4 separate regions of the Homo sapiens genome follow, and all the other regions are linked to region 1. Evidence: fine-mapped expression QTL. A gene starts in region 1. Each other region holds a variant in brackets. All regions are shown on one strand. Distances are between the middles of the regions.

What was found. PIP is the estimated chance that this variant, and not a neighbour inherited with it, causes the effect.
Region 2: its variant is fine-mapped to the expression of PARP11 in cerebellar hemisphere (GTEx, PIP above 0.99).
Region 3: its variant is fine-mapped to the expression of PARP11 in uterus (GTEx, PIP 0.98).
Region 4: its variant is fine-mapped to the expression of PARP11 in tibial nerve (GTEx, PIP above 0.99).

What each region holds. Positions count from the first base shown.
Region 1 is chr12:3,871,203-3,876,353 of GRCh38, reverse strand. PARP11 (poly(ADP-ribose) polymerase family member 11) reads left to right here and starts at 2,955. Exons shown (of 8, transcript NM_020367.6): 1 at 2,955-3,142. The coding sequence starts at 3,125. It overlaps PARP11-AS1 (PARP11 antisense RNA 1), which reads right to left. Exons shown (of 2, transcript NR_183432.1): 1 at 4,398-5,151. RefSeq lists enhancers at 1,466-1,985, 1,986-2,506 and a silencer at 3,178-3,287.
Region 2 is chr12:3,812,148-3,817,298 of GRCh38, reverse strand. PARP11 (poly(ADP-ribose) polymerase family member 11) reads left to right here. Exons shown (of 8, transcript NM_020367.6): 7 at 3,111-3,262; 8 at 4,860-5,151. Among named protein-coding and RNA genes, the nearest start is that of PARP11-AS1, 55 kb to the left of the region's middle. The variant G/C (reference allele first, on the strand shown) is at 2,098.
Region 3 is chr12:3,591,666-3,596,816 of GRCh38, reverse strand. It overlaps PRMT8 (protein arginine methyltransferase 8), which reads right to left. Exons shown (of 10, transcript NM_019854.5): 9 at 4,465-4,586; 10 at 2,844-3,718. The coding sequence ends at 3,635. Among named protein-coding and RNA genes, the nearest start is that of THCAT155, 100 kb to the right of the region's middle. The variant G/A (reference allele first, on the strand shown) is at 2,548.
Region 4 is chr12:3,847,314-3,852,464 of GRCh38, reverse strand. All of the region lies in intron 1 of PARP11 (poly(ADP-ribose) polymerase family member 11), which reads left to right. Among named protein-coding and RNA genes, the nearest start is that of PARP11-AS1, 20 kb to the left of the region's middle. The variant T/C (reference allele first, on the strand shown) is at 2,918.

The sequences.
Region 1 (5,151 bases):
GGCAACTCCACATCTTCAAGAAAACAAAGTATAGCTCCAGCCTCACAAAAGATTGAGGACCTGGCTCTAACCTTTCTAGTTAAACCTGCTTTGTAAAAATTCGCTTCCAACTTCAAGGAAGAGCTAGTTCCTAAATTACTTAAACTGCTACTGTTCATTCTTCAAGGCTAGCATTACTCTGATACCAAAACTTGTTACAGACAAGCACAAAAATCAGTAACAATGGACCAATTTTATTAATTATAAATACATTTTAATCCTAAATAAAAGATTAACAAATCAAACCCAGCATGGCTTTCATTTGATCAAAAAATAATAGAACATGACAAAGCAGAGTTTATTTCAGAAATGTAAGAATGTGTTGAACACTAGGAAATCAATGAGCATAATTCATTATATAAAAGAGTCAGAGTAAAAAACAAATATAGTGATAGAGGCTAAGAGACAGTTGGTAAAATTTTGCACTCTTTCCTGATTTAACAGCATGTAGTAAAACAGGATAGAAGAAAATTTCTTTAAAGATGATAGTGTATTTTCAGAACACCAACTAGCAGGCGCAGTGGCTCACGTCTGTAATCCCAGCACTTTGGGAGGCTGAGGCGGGTGGATCACCTGAGGTCAGGAGTTCGAGACCAACCTGGCCAACATGGTGAAACTCCATCTCTTCTAAAAATACAAAATTAGCCAGGCATGATGGCATGTGCCTGTAGTCCCAGCTACCCGGGAGGCTGAGGCAGGAGAATTGCTGGAACCCAGGAGGCAGAGGTGGCAGTAAGTCCAGATTGTGCCACTGTATTCCAGCCTGGGCGACACAGCGAGACTCCAGCTCAAAAAAAAAAAAAAAGAATACCAACTAGCACTAGCACCAAATGGGCACATGCTTGCCTTACTGCATTAAAGCTGGATATCCATTATCTTGTCCTGTAGTCTTAAACATTTTTCTGATGTTTTGACCAATGCAATAGGAAGAAAGAAACGCATTATTTGCAGGTGATAATGATTGTCTGTGTACAAATTCATAGAGATGAGCTGTCAAGCTATTAGAACTAACAAGACATTTTTTCATAGTGTGGTAGGATACAAGGTAAATAAACAAAAGTCAATAGCTTTCCTAAATTACAGCAATAAGAAATATCTCACTTACAAAAAAACTATAAAATATCTAGGAACAAACTTCCCAAGGATTATGCAAACCTATGTGATTTTTTTTTTTTTTTTACAGATGCTGATGCAGATCTGAAAAAAAATTGTTAATGCATCTAAAGATACAGAAAACAAGTATTTCTGAATGGAAAGACCCATGATATTGAAAATTTTGAAAAAGAAGAGAATTAGGAGAGGTTCCTTTATGAAAAGGCAAATATATTAAATATGTAATGATTATAACTGTGGCATATTTTAGGAATAAGCAGATAATTAATAGAGGAGAATGTTCAGAAACAGATATATACGTGTATGTATACCTATGTATATGTATATGCAAATTTAGGTTGTAATTAACAGTGGCACTTCAAAGTAGTGAGGAAAGAATATTCACTAAATGACATGGGGGCAACTGGTCAACCATTTGGCAAAAATAATCTCTTAGTAAACTATTTTATTTCCAGGAATTAATTCCAAGAAGTAAATGGACAAATGTGAAGAAATGCCTGTTGAAGGATTTTTTTGGGATAGTGAAAAATAGAAAACCACTCAAACGTCTATTCAGTAGATTATTTCAAATGTGTGTGTCTATTTGTGTGTACGTAGTATACGCATAAGTTATGGAATGCCATGAGTCTACTTTAAAATATGGCCGGGTGCAAGATGGCTCACACCTGTAATCCCAGCACTTTGGGAGGCCAAGGCAGGTGGATCACCTGGGGTCAGGAGTTCGAGACTGGCCTGGCCAACATGGCGAAAACCTGTCTCTACTAAAAATACAAAAATTCGCGGGACGTGGTGGCGCACATCTGTAATCCCAGCTACTCAGGAGCCTGAGGCACGGGAATCGCTTGAACTCGGGAGGCGGAGGTTGCAGTGAGCCAAAATGGCGCCACTGCGCTCCAGCCTGGGCGACAGAGCGAGGTTCTGCCTAAATAAATAAATAAAATGATGAAACAGATTTAAACTTAATGGAATGGAAGGATAGCCACATAATCTTTAAAGTGAAAAAAAAATCAGGTTCTAAATCTATAGGTATTCTTTGATTACATTTTTTTCAATGTGTAGAGGCATAGAAAAGTCCAGAAGGATCTATAATGAGCTGTTTAATTTTCATTTCCTATGGGGTAGATCCTTTGTTGCATGGAAGATTATTTCACTCTGTTAGCTCTCTTTACATCAGTAGGAATACATCCTCATGGTTTTAAACATCTTGAGGGAGCTTTCCTGACACTCTACTCTAGGTAAATATGCTCGCATAGCACTCTCTATTCACCATATTACCTATAAATCATATTGCACTTTTTAACTTTTCTAAACTACTTTTTGCTTTCTTTTCTAGATTATAAAATCTTGAGGGCAGGGATAGTATGTAAAGGTTCCCTTGTGAGCAAATAACCGTCACTTATTGAACTCTGTGTGCCAAATACTGTGCTAAATGCTTTCAATAATCTCACTCATAGGGAGATATTACTACCATCTCCATTTTGAGGATGAAGATATTGAAAGATTATGAAGTTTCTCCCAAATGCCATTGCCAGGCCTGTGTGACTCTTGGTCGTTACACGGTGATCAATAAAAATTTGTTTCATAGGAAAGAAATACAGCCAGCCGTGGCTTTAAGATCACTGGGTGATACAGTTGGACCAGAAACCCTTTAAACTCCTTCGTCAGACACAGACTCGCAAGCCCCGCCCAGGACGACCGCCCGCGCGCGTATGGATAAGCGTGCAGGGGCGGGGCGAGCTTGTAGGAGTGGGGCGGAGACAGATCTGACTGGCCAACGTCGGGCGGAAGTCGGGAGGTTGGGTGGTCTGTAAACGCTGGCTTGTGACAGGGAGGGGGAGGAGGAAGGCCTTCGTAAAGGTTGCATCTCCGTCCCTTCGCTCCCGGGGACCCGCGGGAAAAAAAAAAATCCAACACCCAGGCCCCGCGGCTAGCCCCTTCCCACAGGCTCTCTCCGCTCGATTTTGTCACCGTTATGTGGGAAGCGAATCCAGTGAGTAGCCGGGCGGGACGGGGCGGGCCCAGGGGGCGGGGTTGATGAGAGAGGGGCGGGAGGGGGTCACCGGAACTGCTTCCCCGCGCTCGCTTCAGTCTGGGTGTTGAGTTCCGGGACCGGAGTTCCCGGGCCTTTTGGCTTCTGTAGTCTGTACCTTTTTAAGCAGTGGAAGTGCCTGGGTGGATTCTCCAATGCTTTATTGTTTTCTTGTTACAATTATTTATTTTACTTCCCGTGATGTTTCAGCCTCATCCCTTCACCATTTGTTGTTGTTGTTGTTTTTGAGACGGAGTCTCGCACTGTTGTCCAGGCTGGAGTGCAGTGGCGTGATCTCGGCCCACCGCAACCTCCGTCTCCCGGGTTAAAGCGATTGTCGTGCCTCAGCCTCCCGACTGCCTTCACTGTTTTTTGAAACTTTGTGTTTTGCTTTCTAATTGGAGTAACTGGCCTTGGAACCTGTAGTCAGTCATTTGCCTCAGGTTTACCTGCCAGTCCCACCAGTCTAAAGCAAGGGAATTGGGACCCCCTTGTCTTGAATGGGCCTAAGAGGAGCCATCAGTTCTCCTTTTCCCTTCTTGGTGGACAGTCGTTTAAAACTTGGAGTATGGACTGTATGTTCTTAGATGTTTTCGTTCGGTGGACAAAGTGATCTGGAGCATTTCAACTGCAAGTCTGCCTTCTTCCTTGGCTGACTCTGGTATTTTCATTATGACTTCATGTGTCTTTGTCTACTTTGCTTTTATACATTTATTTATTTAAAGTGCAACGTAGGGGCCGAAAACTTTAGTACCTTTCCTCACCACCCATTGTAAGGATCACAGCCACCACTCCTTAAAACAGAAGATAGGTTAACAAGGTAAAAGCAGAGCAAATCTAATCAAAGTTTTACACCACCAGGCACTTCAGAGACCAGGGAGATCTCTATTTTTATGCGTAGGACCCATGAAGAATAGACAACTGTGTAAAAATGTGACTGGACAAAGGATATACTCTAATGTTAATAAACTGAGGAAGGAAGCCCAGCAAGGTCTGTTTGTTCAGATTCTTCTTGGCCTCTCTGTGTATCATTTCTTCCTCCTACGGAGGAGGAAGGTCCCTTCTGGAATGAGGGTCTTAGCGACCTACTATCAGGCAAGGTAGATTAGAGAATTTCTTTATGGCCAGTTCCTATAGACAATGGCAGGGAAAGCTTAATAGTTCCAGTTTTTATGGCTTGCTTTGTAGGAGAGGGATCCTAGTTTCTATCACTCACCTTGGGGAAGAATTCTGGTTTCTGTGACTCACTTCTGGGACGAAAGATGGGCAGGAGACAGAAGGGCAGGAGATCAGAGGGAGAGACTGCTTCCGAGGCTGCTTCTGAGGCCTTCCAATCTCTTTTAGTTCAAAGTATTCAGCATGCCAAAGTGTCATACTTCGGGGTAGTATTTTCTGAGCCCCAACACAACCCTCAGAGAGTGGGATCTATTTGCCAAGAGTATTCTTCTGTTGTTATGGTTGAAACTGCCTGGTAAGGTGGCAGATGTATGGTATTTAAAACTTAGGAGTTGACTGGAAAAATGGTAGAATCACATTTCAGCAAGTTGTTGGACTAAATACAGTCGTGCGCCTCCTAACAATGGGGATATGTTCTGAGAAGTTCATTGCTGGGTGATTTTTTTCATTGTGCCAACGTCATAGAGTGTACTTTCATAAGCCTGCTACACACCTAAGGCTATATGGAATAGCCTATTGCTCTTAACCTAGAAATCTGTACAGCATAGTATTGTACTGAATACTGTAGGCATTCGTAACACAATGGAAAGTATTTATGTATCTAAACATAGAAAAGATACAGTAAAATAAAGTGTTAACAATCTTTGGGACCACTTGTATATGCGATCCATGGTTGACTGAAAGCTTTTATGCAATGCATAATTGTGTATGAAACATAAGAAACTACTCCTATGCTGAGATAACTGCATAAATTTACTTTAATAACCCCTAATTTCCATATTTGCAATAATTTC
Region 2 (5,151 bases), 59 kb after region 1:
ACCCACAGTTTATTTATAATATCTAAGAGAAACTCCAGTGAATTTTCAAACCGAGATTCAATCGAATTTGTGCCCGAAAAGTAGTGATAAATGAATTTTTTTTTTTTTGAGACAGAATCTCTTTCTGACACCCAAGCTGGAGTGCAGTGGCGCGATCTCAGCTCACTGCAAGTTCCGCCTCCGGGGTTCATGCCATTCTCCTGCCTCAGCCTCCTGAGTAGCTGGGACTACAGGCGCCCGCCACCACGCCTGGCTAATTTTTTGTATTTTTAGTAGAGACAGGGTTTCACCATGTTAGCTAGGATGGTCTGGATCTTCTGACCTCGTGATCCGCCCACCTCAGCCTCCCAAAGTGCTGGAATTACAGGCGTGAGCCTCTGCGCCTGGCCTTCTTTTTGAGATGGAGTCTTGCTCTGTTCCCCAGGCTGCAGTGCGGTGGCACAATCTCAGCTCATTACAACCTCCGCCTCCTGGATTCAAGTAATTCTCCTGCCTCAGCCTCCCAAGTAGCTGGGATTACAGGTGTGTGCCACCACACCCAGCTAATTTTTGTATCTTTTAGTAGAGACAGAATTTCCTTAGAGTGGATTCTAGTCATTGCAGATCATGAAGCACAACATTGACAAGTTTGACATTACAGACCATGAAGCCTGGCATTATGTATGATACTAATGTTTCTTTGAGAAAACCAGTATGGATTCACTAATGCCAAACTAACTAATAGGATTACCATAGTGGTAGATGGATAGGCCCCTTAGACAGTCTAGCTTGGTTTCTCACTTTATAGTGGTTGAGAAAGTTTCTTTTCAGGAAGACAAGATGGAGAAATATGTGCTGGTGGGTATTTCAAAGAGAAAAACTAGTAGACAAAAAGTCTTACGCAAAGAGTAACTCGAAAGGCATGCATGCTCTCTTCTTGGATCCTTCAAAATTTTTATCAGAAATGGATGAAAATGTAGAGGGCTTGCTTATCACACTTGTGAGGGATTCAAAACTAGAAGGGGTAGCTTATTTGTTGAGTGAGTGAATCAGCAGTCAGAAAGACCTTGGAAGATTGAAACAGTGGGTAAAAACAAGTATTATCTTCTTTTTTTAATTTAAAAAACTTTTTTCGTTTGTTTTTATAAAGGGAACAAATGCGCCTTGTTTAAAAAAAGTGAGAACATAAAGTTCTGAAAAAGGAAGTTCTTAGTGAAAGCATGCTGACTTTTTGTAAAGTAAACATTTGCTAAATGCACGACCTTCTGATGTCATGCTTAATGGTCTGAAAAGACTGTCACAAATAGATCAAAGCATATACATTTAAATTTTGATACATACTGCCAAGTGACTCTTGAGAAAGACCGTATGCGTTTTCATCTCTGTCACCATTTAAATGCAGGTATCCATTCCCAAACATATTCAACGAGCTGCCTATCATTTACAGAACTCAGTCTGAGATACGGATATTTTACTGTTATTTAATTTTTACTTTTTAAATTACTATATCAAGTAAAGCTTAACTGAAATCTATTGCATTCAGTTTATAAATCAGTTGCACAGATTTAGCAAGCTAAGAGAGGTCTGGTTTGGAAAAGTCCTGGGAGTTTTAACCGACTACACACTTGATTATGGATGCAGTTTGCTGCCCTGTTACCAAAATACATTCAGTGGTGTCGGTGGAGTCAGTGCTGTCTGATGATATCTGGACTGTTGCTATTTCATGCCAACATTTATAAACTAGAAAGTATCCAGCAGATTCTTGTTAACTAAAGACTGTTGGGATAAAGAAAGACCTAGAAGCTATGCTGTGTCAGGAGTGGTTGAAGGAATGGTGTATATTTAACCAAGAAAAGAAAGCCTAGGTAGGTGTTCAAATTTGCAATGTTGTTTTGTGTAAGAGTGATTTGAGTTGTTAATGTTCATAAGAGAATAACTAAGACCAATCAATAGAAGTAACAGAAGGCAGATTTGGTTTGGCATTGAGATGGATGTACTTTCCAACTATTACAGCTGATCACAAATAAATTGTGCTGTTTTGCAAAGTGAGCACGTGATGCTGTGAGTACTTGACACTGGATGAATTGAAGCAGGCATTAAAGAGCTATCAGAAGCCGG[G/C]GGAGGGGATTCTTTTTAATTTTTAAAATATGATTTTTATGAAATGTTTCAAGAATGAAAATGCAGCAAATAGTTTGCAGACTCCCATGTATCTACCAATCAGATTTAACATTTTGATACTTGTCACATTTCCTTCCTCTTCACACAGATACAGGTGAAGTGTTTACTCCATCCCTGTCCTACTCTCCTTCTTTCCTCCTGAGATTGGTATGGTGCCTTATTGTTTGTATTTTGTATTTTTTACTACCTGTGTATGTATACCTACATAATACACAGTATTATTTTGAGTTCTCTATCTCTTTTTGCAAAATTCTTTTTACATTCAATATTATTTTTTAAGATTTACTATGTTAATGCACATAGATCTACTTCATTACTTTTAACTTTTATATGTAAATACATGACTATATTCATTTCTCTGTGAAATAATTTTAGGCTGTTTTCAGTTTTTGTTTTCTGTTACAATCAGTCCTACATTAAATATGCTTTTATGTGTTAGGATAGATTTATCCTTGGGAAGAGGATTAAACTGGATGGCTTAATGTCCCTCCCAACCCTATGGTGCAAAATTTAGTCAACTGAACCAACATTTTCTAGTTTCTGAGGATAAAAAGCATATGACATGATCCCTGCTCAAGGAATTCACTGTCTAAAGTCTCTGCAAACTTTGTATTACTTGTTTGTTGTCTCATTTTTAGGCATCTATAAAGGTTAGCTGGTTTAGACAATCAATTACCTTTATGATATTGGGGCATAGCATGGGATAACTATAGTTTTTGGCATAATTTTCAACCTTAAGTTTCAGTGTTAACTAATAATTTTTGATGAGATGATTTATGTGTCCAAGAACATTTGAAATTATTTCTTTTCTAGACTTGCTTTGTCCACTTGTTATTTATATTAAAGTATTTCCTGTTTTACGCTTTCTATTGAACCTTGCTCATTAAGATTAATAAATGCTACTTATGGTATATTTCTGTGTGCTTTTGTGTCTGTGTATATTGTGTTTTTAGGAAAAAGGCTCAGCTCAAGAAAAAAAGAGGTGTGCCTCAGATTAATGAACAAATGCTGTTTCATGGTACCAGCAGTGAATTTGTGGAAGCAATCTGCATTCATAACTTTGATTGGAGAATAAATGGTATACATGGTGCTGTCTTTGGAAAAGGTAATTATCAGAATTCCAGGTCCAATTTGAGCCCCAGGAGAGAGTTTCCTCTTTTTAGAGGAATATAAATATAAATATGAACTGCTTTATGGCAAATATATAGAGAATGATAAAACAAATGGATTATAATTGCATTGTGTACGAGAATAGATACTAGTGTTTTTGTTTTATTTTGTTTTTAAGAAAATCATAGGTAAGAATATTAGTGAGCAATAAGGAATAGTGGGGGAAAACTTCACGTTATTTATAATGTTGTGAAAATCCAAGTTTTTCAATTTATGTCTGGTACTCAGGCAAATTAAGGAGAGAGGTGAGGGGAAAAGGTATGGGATGTACATTTAATTTTCTGGTCCTTACTTTGTACCTTGCTTCCAGCAAGAGAACTGACTACTGTTTAGGATCAGGATATGCTGCATTTTGAAAATGTAAATTAATTTAAAAAATAACTACTAAAAAGGCCATTCCACTTATTTAACTGTAAGGAGGTCAGAAGGTGTTACATAAATCCCATCAGTGTTAGGTAAATATGAGACTTTGCAATTCATTTCCACATTTTTTTAGAGTAAGAATGCCCTTAATGATGTCTATCTCTTGTGTCTACCATTTCAGAAGAGTTGGCTGCTTTATCGAGTTTTCATGTGTAGGCAGTGAGCCAGTAAAATCATTTTTGTTTTGGAATGCTCAGATATGAATAGCATTATACTCTCTCAGAAATCTTTTCATGGATATGGGATTCTATTGTTTCCAGAAATATTACTGAATTGTTATCCCATATCATAGAAATACGGTTTCTTGGGGTTTAAAAGAATCCCTGTAGGCCATCGGTTTCCACTGTGCTCTCTAGAGCTTTGCTGGATGTTGACAAGGGAACAGGGTGAGGAAGTGGTGAAAGGAAATAGAAACGGGAGGGAGGGCCAAGCAGTAAAACTCAGGGCCGGGCATGGTGGCTCACGCCTGTAATCCCAGCAGTTTGGGAGGTCGAGGCAGGTGGATCACCTGAGGTCAAGAGTTCAAGATCAGCCTGGCCAACATGGTGAAACCCTGTCTCTACTAAAAAAATATAAAAATTAGTTGGGTGTGGTGGCACGCGCCTGTAATCCCAGCTACTCAGGAGGCTGAGGGAGGAGAATCGCTTGAACCTGGGAGGCGGAGGTTGCAGTGAGCTGAGATCGCGCCACTGCACTCCAGCTTGGGAGACAGAGCAAGACTCTGTCTCAAAAAAACAGAACAAAACAAAACTCAGGTCCAACCACACTTTTAATCATTAAACCAGTTTTATCTGTTTTATTAATTGTTTTCTTTGTAAGATTTATTTTAAAAACAGAAGTCTGATAGCTATATTTTGGTGGGGGCAGGGGATGGTGTTGGTGGTGAGGACTGGTCTGTACCAACAAATCTATTCCTATGGCAGTCTATACTACAGCTGTCCATAACAGATGGATTTCTATTCTTCTCTTAAAGATCTGCAGATGAGGAAATTCCACATCTATTTTTATTATACAATTCTATGCATCTATTCTCCTGACAAAATGTTTTTGCTTGTTTTTAATATATTCTTCGGAGTAATCTTGGCTTTTCTTGGTCCTCTTTGTTTAAGGAACCTATTTTGCTAGAGATGCTGCTTATTCCAGTCGTTTCTGCAAAGATGACATAAAGCATGGGAACACATTCCAAATTCATGGTGTCAGCTTGCAACAGCGGCATCTGTTTAGAACATATAAATCTATGTTTCTTGCTCGAGTGCTAATTGGAGATTACATAAACGGAGACTCCAAATACATGCGACCTCCTTCCAAAGACGGGAGCTATGTGAATTTATATGACAGCTGTGTGGATGATACCTGGAACCCAAAGATCTTTGTGGTTTTTGATGCCAACCAAATCTATCC
Region 3 (5,151 bases), 280 kb after region 1:
ATAACCACAGAGTTCCATGATGCCTGCTGTCTCTGCTATACTGCTGCTACCTAGTTCAGTGCCTGGAGCCTATTAAGTATCCAATACTGGAATGTGTTGTGTCTGAGCCTTTGCTGAATATGGACTAATTGCTTCCAATGGGACGGGGACATTGGAGGCTCCAGGCCTGGAGCTCAGCACATCCACTACGGTTAGACACGTACTGAGGAGATCACCTGTCCTCGGGAAGTCAGACTTATGTTGGAAGTCACCAGACAACAAAATAGGAGTCTGGGTATAATATGCCACAGCCTGGCGGTCTAGGGAAATCTAGGTGCCCCCAGGTAGAGCTGTACTCAGAAACAAGATATCTAAAGAGATGCTAGTCAGGAACCCAGGCAGGTAGCAGGGGTCCTGAAAAATGTTTCTTCAGGAAGAGGGCTCCTAAAACCAGGCTGGGGCCGTCAGTGTGGTAGTGAGGGGATTTGCAAAAACAAGACAGAGTCCCCATACTATGTGAGATCAAGGAGATCAAGGCAGGGCACATGCCGGGTGATCAGAACTGCCCCTAGGCCAGGGACAGATTCCAGGCCAGGTGAACACGGTGCAGAGACGGGCCAAGATGTCTGGCTTAATTTCATGCCACTACTGAGGTCTGAAGTGAGGTGGAGTCTATAGGTGGGATTGCAGGTATGACGTCAAGGGGAGAGGGAGCCTTCGGAGATGGGTCCATGGAGGGCCTGGCTAAGGCCTCATTTCCGCCCACAGAGTTGACAGAGGCTTGGGTGTATCTAGGGTAGATGGCCTCCATGGGGTGGTTTTTATGAAAGTAAAAAAAATATTGGCATCTCCCAAGGAGCACAAATAGAAGAGGCTGGAGCCTGCAGGTCCTGGGTGGGGGGCAGGTGCTCATGGGCACATTCCATGGGATCAAGCAAGTGCTGGGTCAGCTGCCACTCTGTTACCAGCCACCCGCACCCTGCTCTCTCCAGGCAGGTCTCCGCCCTTGGAGCTTGTGGTTTAGGAGGGGAGAGAAACCATGCCTCCGTGGACTTCGGAACAAGCACAGAGTGGCCTCTGTACAGACAAGCCCAGATGCAATCACAAAAGAGGACCACATTTTGGGAGAAGGGAGTTGGGAATAGAAGGGCAAAGTTCCCCAGAGCAGGGGAAGAGTGACAGGCGAGAAAGTCTCTAAAGGGTTTTGTACAGCCTCAAAAATGTAAAAGAGGCAAAGAGTCGAGGAAAAAACAGGTTTTATCAGTGAAGTCATCTTTATAGCATCTCTGTTGTCATTCGAGACCGCATCTCATGCACTGACTTCCATTCAGAGGCTGTTCAAAGCAGAGATTGCTTATTTCCCACTGAATCGGAGGGAAATAATTCCCACTGGAGCATTCGCCTGAGCAGGTGGGAGGAGGCTGCTGTGGAATTGATCCCTTATGCATTACAGGCTTCCCTTCTGCAGCCCAGGGGCAGGGAGGGGTGGTGGTGGGGCAGCCCAGGGCTTGTACCACTCCAGAAAGCTAAAGATGGGGGTGGGTGCAGGATAGGCCCCTGGGATGGCCCTCTTCTCCTCTGATGGTCAGAGAGGCCCGAAAGATTGCTGGGCCTTTGCTCATTCTGGTCCTCCCCTAAGCCTCCTGCCCCAGCAGCCTCCCCAGGTCCCAGAGTGTCAGGGATGCCTGCAGGACCCAAATGCCTGGAGCTCCCAGGAGGCCATCATCTTGACCGCTCCACTGGGCTCCTGACAATGTGGGATTTTGCTGGTTGACCATGGATGGGATCCTACACCAGGTTGAATGAGCTTCCTGCCCAAAGTTAAACCAGGTCAGTAGGCAGAATCCAGGGGACCCCAACTCTCACTACAATGGAAACCAACTCCTGAGTTCTCGAATGCCCCCGAGGGAGTCCCCACTCCAATGTCCTCCTTCAATCTCCTCTCTCCTCTAATACACTTGCTTCTGTGCCCTCTTAAGTTTCTCTATTTTTCTTCCCAATACATGTACACAAAAAGCATTAAATAATTTTCACTGTGTTTTTCTCTAGGTATAAAAAAGACAGTCTTAGCCTCTGGGCCTGAGGCTTGGAAGAATCAGTGCAGGGCAGGGGAGGGCACATTAACTGGGACTTGAGACCTTGGCCCACCTCAGCTAGCAAATGGCTGGGGTAAGGCCTCTGCGTGTAACTCCCAAGGCTTCATGGAATTGACAGAGTCCATGGACATCAGAAGTTTATGGAAGTGCAGAGGCCATTGCTATTGGGTTCAGTTATCATTATCCAGGGGCTCTGCCATCACCAGCACTCCCCAACCACGCAAAGCCAGGCCCGAGGTCTCCCCTGCATCTTCCTTCTTCCTGGATCCCATCAGCTCCACCCATCATCTCTAAATGGCCCCTCTTCCTTCCCCCACCTGGAATGTCTCTTCCCAGGTAGGTGACATAGATGAGAATCATGGTCTTGGAAGCTAAAGCATAGCCCAAGACCAGACCAAATCAAAACACTCCACCACGCCCTGCAAAGTACATTGCATTTCCATCCTTCACAGATTCCGCTGTTACCACGCCC[G/A]GACCAAGGCTGGACATTATCCTAAGCAGTCTCCAGGCTATGCATGGCCTGCCATTCTGGCACACTCTTGGTTAGCTCCTGTCCCCCACCCCAGCTCCATGACCTCCTTACCCTCTAAGGTAGGACCCCTCAGAGTCCATGGGGGAGATGCTCTTAGACCAGCCCTGACCTCCCTGCTGGGGAGCAAACGTGAACCCACGTAGGTGCTGCTGCCCTTGAGTCTCCACTCCATCATGGCCTCTGGCTTCCCCCCAGCCCTCCCACTTCACAGCACCAGGAACCAGCCATCCCACCAGTTTGTTCTCATGTGTGTTTATTGAGCGCCCACGGAGTCCGTGGTACTATGCTCAAGGTTCAGAGCCACAGTCCAGTCAAAAGGAGACCAGAACTAGTACAGAGAATGTTTCATAGCTGCTTAACATCTGGTAAGGGGTGGGGAAGGGGCGAACTAATCACAAAACAAATTCCTATTCAAAAGCAACAGAATCTCCTCTGAGAGTAATATATATTCTAGGCACACGCGCACGCACACACACACACACCCCTCTGAGAGAACACCTAGGTCTACCCACTTGGTTGTATATGCACGCATATACAGGTGTTTGTGGGTAAATATCAACTATGCTGCTCACATTCACACATGCACGCACACGCACACCACCGCACACACAGATAATCTGGCTTATGCTATCAAAGATGCTATGTCTCCAGGTTCTAGTGGAAGCAATCTGTCCTAGACACCCGCAGCATGCAAAACTCAGAAGACCCGGAGAGTCACAGTTAAGGAGGAGACGGGGAGACGCGAATACGTTTCCACCCTCGGGGCCCAGCCACAGCACGCCAGGTCGCTCTTTGTTGGCAACACAAAGCCTTCGTGAAGGGCTACCAGGGCAGAGCGGAGGAGCTGGAGGCCTTCTGTCCAGTGGCAGAGCCCACGGGAGCCCTGGGGAGTTCACCAATCTTCAAGGCAGAGTTGAAAACTCTGGTTTTCAAGTGTGTAGTCCTGCAAACGGTATTCTTTGGGACGGCACGGCAGATCGAGGTGAGAGTTCCTTTTCTCGTTGCTCTCTGCAGCTTCCCACGTGTGCTAACGCATTTTGTAGTCATTAGATACAGATGTTTCACACAGCTGTCCCTTAAAATCCAAGTCTACTGTGAAATCGAGGTCTCGCTGCAAGGCAGAGAGAGAGCGAAGGGTCAGGCGGCCGTCTGGGTATGAAGCCACAGCCCCACTCTCTGGCACCACCTGCTCCTGGAACCACAGGGATGGGTAGCACCAGCGTCTTAAGGCTTTCTGGCTAAGGGGTTCCCCTGAACAGCCCACAGGAATCCATTCTGCTGCCTCCTTGTCCTCACAGGAAGTTCTTCCATTTCTCCCTAAATCCTTCCTGCTCTAATAACAAAACGTTCCGAGTTCGTCCTGGAAGTAAACTGATTGGGGTGGTTAAGTGTTCTGTGAGGTGACCTTCAGAGCACTCTGCAGACGTTTTTAGCGCTCATGCCCACACCTGGGGCTGCCCCGAAAGTGCCAGCAAGTCTCCCTCGCACCAGGCCAGCTGAAGAAATGCACGCCAAACATCCTCCAGCCACCAGGAGCTTATCTCCTGGCCCAGCTCTTACTAAATGAGGTAGGACCCATTTATTTGAAAGCCCCTCACAGGAAGAGCTGGAAGCTGTCTTCAAAGCCAAGGCAGTCCAGAATTGGACCCAGGGAAAACCTCTATTTGCGGAGTTTTGAGGGGTCAAGCCTGAGTCCCTCAATTAGGCCTAGTCATGTCCACATGTGGCTACCGACTGCCTGCCTCAGTAAGTTTCTGACTGTTCATGAGACACTTAAGAACCCGGGCAAGTGGGTCCTGAGCGAGCCAGCTCTGTGGGGCCCTTCTCCCTTATGTCCTTATGTCCCTCGGCACTTACCACATTTTTGGCATTTGGCTTCATGGATATGGTCCCGTAGATTTCCTCCCCCCTCCGGACAGTGAGGTAATCTTCCAAGTAGAAGACGGTCTGCTTCCAGTGGGTGTAGGGAGCATCAGGGGCTGAGGGGTGAGAGAACAGGGGAGGTGGGAAGAAAGAGTCAGAGACGAAGTCTCCAAAGGGATGAGGCTGGGACCCTGCATAGAAGTTGCTGGGCTTCCCCTGGGACTCACTGAAACCACCCACCCCAGTACTCTTGTTGGGTCAGGTGCATAGTCCTTATAGCCTTCCTCCAAGCCCCATCAGAACTCCCTCTCAGTCCCAGTGGCCTCTCCTCCCATCACATCCCCATCTCCTCAGTGCTGGGGATCAGAAGACAAACAACCCGATACTACAAGTTCATAGCAAGGGATGGATGAGGAATACCCTGTCACCCACTAAATGCATGGACATACATGCATCTGAACATGCTGCTGTTTTTAATTAGTTCAACAGAATGAAGATCTTCAGACAGTATGGGGAAGAGATTTGTAGAGTAGGCCCTCCTATCTCCCCTTAAATGACATCATTCATGCAAACTCCACAGCTAAACCAGTTTCCCCAGATCCACTGATATGGCAGGTACTTGGTCCTCAATCTTACAACTAGCTTTTCCTGCTGGGCACACATAGTGGCTCATAGCTGTAA
Region 4 (5,151 bases), 24 kb after region 1:
GTTTTCAGCTCCATCAGGTCATTTAAGGTCTTCTCTTACACTGTTTGTTCTAGTTAGCCATTCGTCTAATCTTTTTTCAAGGTTTTTAGCTTCCTTGCGATGGGTTCAAACATCTTCCTTTAGCTCGGAGAAGTTTGTTATTACCAACCTTCTGAAGCCAACTTCTGTCAACTCGTCAAAGTCATTCTCCATCCAGCTTTGTTCCGTTGCTTGCAAGGAGCTGCGTTCCTTTGGAGGAGAAGAGGTGCTCTGGTTTTTAGAATTTTCAGCTTTTCTGCTCTGGTTTTTCCCCATCTTTGTGGTTTTATCTACCTTTGGTCTTTGATGACGGTGACCTATAGATGGGGTTTTGGTGTGAATATCCTTTTTGTTGGTGTTGATGCTATTCCTTTCTGTTTGTTAGTTTTCCTTCTAACAGTCAGGTTCCTCTGCTGCACGTCTGTTGGAGTTTGCTGGAGGTCCACTCCAGAACCTGTTTGCCTGGGTATCCCAGCGGAGGCTGCAGAACAGCAAATATTGCAGAACAGCAAATATTGCTGCCTGATCCTTCCTCAGGAAGCTTCGTCTCAGAGGGGCATCCGACTGTATGAGGTGTCAGTCGGCCCCTACTGGGAGGTGTCTCCCAGTTAAGCTACACGGGGGTCAGGGACCCACTTGAGGAGGCAGTCTGTCCATTCTTGGAGCTCAAACACTGTGCTGGGAGAACCACTGCTCTCTTCTGAGCTGTCAGACACGGACATTTAAGTCTGCAGAAGTTTCTGCTGCCTTTTGTTCAGCTATGCCCTGCCCCCAGAGGTGGAGTCTACAGAGGTAGGCAGGCCTCATTGAGTTGCGGTGGGCTCCACCCAGTTCAAGCTTCCTGGCCACTTTGTTTACCTACTCAAGCCTCAGCAATGGTGGAAACCCCTCCCCAAGCCAGGCTGCTGCCTTGCAGTTTGATCTCGGACTGCTGCGCTAGCAGTGAGCAAGGCTCTGTGGGCATGGGACCCGCTGAGCCAGGTGCGGGATATAATCTCCTGGTGTGCCATTTGCTAAGACTGTTGGTAAAGGGCAGTATTTGGGTAGCAGTGTCCCAGTTTTCCTGGTACAATCTGTCACGGCTTCCCTTGGCTAGGAAAGGGAAATCCCCCAATCCCTTGTGCTTCCTGGGTGAGGCGATGCCCTGCCCTTCTTCGGCTTGCCCTCTGTGGGCTGCACCCGCTGCCCAACCAGTCCCAATGACATGAACCAGGTACCTCAGTTGGAAATGCAGAAATCACCTGTCTTCTGTGTCAGTCACGCTGGGAGCTGTGGACCAGAGCTGTTCCTATTTGGCCATCTTGGAATGGACCCCCAATGCTGTATCTTTTCTTAAATTTCTGTAACATGCCTGTTGAGTATTCAGTATTCTTTTCAATTTTCAGTTCATCATGATCTTTGATTATTTCATGATCAGCATACTATTAAGTGGCATGGATTCTCTGTGATGCTGATGGACTATCCTTTCAATACATGAACAAGATTTTGTTTTTAGCTTTATGTAGGATTTTTCCATTTTTATTAACTTCTGTTCATTACTTTCAACATAGAACTTTCATAGTTGGTCCTTCTCTTTCTTCAGATCATATATATAGTGGTCATTTCAACACCATACTCTTCTGTAAGATATTTCAGACTTAACATTGCTGTCCAGTTGCTATAACAGCTTGACTTTCTGTTTTGTAGATAAATATAAATGCTTTCCTTTTTTTCTTATCACTGTTATCCACAGTGATATCTGCAGGCCTTTCTGACCTTGTCAACAGTATCTTTATACTGCAGAGCAGAGAATAAGAAAAAAACACAGTAATGCACATAGATATTGGCCTCTTGTGGGGCATTGTGAGGAACCTGCCATTGGCGTATCCAGCCTGTACATATACCATTTTATTACCCTTTGTGGACATGCTTGCGTGGGGGAATCTGGACATGTGAGGAAAATATATATTACAGCTGAAAGGGCCTGGGAAAGTCTTTTTTCCCTTGAATAAACTGTATATTATACTCTCTCATTTTGACTGTGACCCATCACATGAAGTCAGGAGTAGAATTTTCCACTTGTGGCCTTATGTAAAGTCTCAAAAAGTTTTGGATTTTGGAGGAATTCTGATTTCAGATTTTTGGATTAGGGGTGTTCGAACTGATATAATTATGCTATATATATTATGTCTATATATGTTACCAACCCAACTATACATTTTTATTATTACTTTACATAATTATATGTCTTTTAAGGAAGCTGATAGAAAAAAGGGGAGAACAAGTATGTAGCATCTATATTTAATTTATTACATATACCATCTTATTTACTGTGATTCTTCTTGTGGATTTGAGTTACCATATGGTGTTATTTCCTTCTCCAATATAGCTTTGTTCCCACCTGCCTTCTTGATGCTGCTATTGTATATTTAACAGTTCTGTATATTATAGGCATAATGATATGTATTTAATTAAATACATATTTAAAATTAAATACATATTTAAAAAGTTGATACATAATCGATATACATATTTTCAGGACATGTGATAATTTAATAAATTCACATAAAATTTACATATGAAATCAGGGTAATAGGATATCTATCACCTTAAATACTTGTCTTCTTTATGCTAGAAACCATTCAAACTATTCCCTTCTAGCTATTTTGAAATGTACAATAGATTATTGTAAACTACAGTCACCCTACTGATCTATTGAACACTAGGTCTTATCACTTCTAGGTCTTATTTCTTATATCTAACTGTATATTTATACCCATTAATCAACCTCTTTTAATCAGTCTCTCCCCCTGCCCTTCCCAGCCTCTGGTAACCACCAATCTACTTTGTCTCTTCATGAGTTCCACTTATTTAGCTCCTACATATGAATGAGAACAGGTGATATTTGTCTTTCCGTGCT[T/C]GGCTTATTTTACTTGACATAACGAATTCTCATTTCATCCATGTTGCTGCCAATGTCATGACTCCATTCTTTTTTACAGCTCGATAATCCATTGTGTATATAAACCACATTTTCTTTATCCATTCATCCATGGATGGATACTTAGGTTGATTCCCTATCTTGGCTATTATGTATCATTCTGCAATAAACATGGGAGTGCAGATATCCCTTCAGTGTACTGATTTTTTTTCTTTTAGGTATATACTCAGTCGTGGAGTTGCTGGATAATATGGTAGTTCTATTTTTTTTTGAGGTACCTCCATAATTTTCCATGGTGACTGTTCTTATTTACATTCCCACCAACAGTGAACGAGGGTTCCATTTTCTCCACATCCTTGCTAGCATTCGTTATTCTTTGTCTTTTTATAAAAGCTATTTTAACTGAGGTGAGATGATGTCTCATTGTGGTTTTGGTTTGCATTTCTCTGAAAATTAGTGATTTTGAGCATTTTCTCATATACCTGTTGGCAATTTGTATGTCTTTTGAGAAATATCTATTCAGGTCTTTTGCCCATTTTTAAATTGGATTATTTGTGTTTTTTTTTTTCTTTTGCTGTTGAATTGTTTGAGCTCCTTATATATTATTATTATGAATCCATTGTCACATTGATAGTTTGCACATATTTTCTCCCATTCTGTGACTTGTTTCTTCACTTTGTTGATTGTTTCCTTTGTTGTGTAGACTCTTTTTAGTTTGATGTAATTCCAGTGATCCATTTTTGCTTTGGTTGCAGTGCTTTTGAGGTCTCACACAAAAAATCTTGCCCAGACCAATGTTCTTATTTCCCCAGTGTTTTCTTCTAGTAGTTTCATAGTTTCAGATCTTAGATTTAAGTCTTTAATTCATTTTGATTTGATTTTTTAATGTGGTTAGAGATAGTGGTATAGTTTTATTCTTCTGCGAATTAGATAGTCTTTATTCAGTTTTCCCAGCACCATTTATTGAAGAGACTGTTCCCATTCTATGTTCGTGGTGACTTTGTTGAAATGAGTTAGCTGTAAATGTGTGGATTTATATCTGGGTTCTCTATTCTGTTCCATTGGTCTATGTGTCTTTTTATGCAAGTATCGTGCTGATTTGATTACTATAGCTTTGTAGTATATTTTGAAGTCAGGTAATGTGAGGCCTCTAGCCTTATTTTTGCTCAAGATTGCTTTGGCTATTCAGGGTCTTTTGTGGTTCTATATAAATTTTAGGATTTTTTGCGTTTGTTTATTTCTGTGAAGAATGTCATGGTATTTTGATAGGGATTATGTTGAACCTGTAAATTGCTTTGGGCAGTATTGTCATTTTAACAATATTAATTGTTTCAATTCATGAGCATGGAATATCTTTCCATTTTTATGTCTTTAATTTCTTTCATAAGCATTTTATAGTTTTTCCTGTATAGATCTTTCATTTTAGTTAAATTGACTCGTATGTATTTTATATTCTTTGTAGCTATTGTAAATTGAATTGCTTTCTTGATTTCTTTTTTAGATTGTTTGCTCTTGGCATGTATAAATGCTACTAATTTTTGTATGTTGATTTTGTAACCTGCAGTTTTACTGAATTTATCAGTTCTAATAATTTTTGGTGGAGTTTTTAGGTTTCTTTAAGAATAGGATTATGTCTTCTGTCAACAAAGGAAATTTAACTTCTTTCTCTCCAATTTGGTTGCCATTTATTTCTCTTTCTTGCCTAACTCTTGCCAGGACTTCCAATATCATGTTGAGTAACAGTAGTGAAACTGGACATCTTTGTCTTGTTCAAGATCTTAGAAGAAAGGCTTTTAATTTTTTCCCATTTAGTGTGATACTAGCTGTGGGTTTGTCATCTGGCCTTTATTATTTTGAGATACGTTTCTTCTATATCCAGTTTGTTGAGGGTTTTTATTATAAGAAGATGTTGAATTTTATCAAATGCTTTTAAAGCATCTATTAAAATGATTATATGGTTTTTCTTCTTGGTTCTCTGTTGTTGTGATCTGTCATGTTGATTGATTTGCATATGTTGAACCATCCTTGCATCCTTGGGATGTGAATCCCACTTGATCATGGTGAATGATTTTTTTAATGTGTTGTTGAATTCAGTTTTCTAGTATTTTATTGAGGATTTTTGCATCTATGTACATGGGTGATATTGGCCTATGGTTTTCTTTGTTTGTTGTGTCCTTATTGGGTTTTGATATCAGGATAATGCTGTCTCGTAGAAT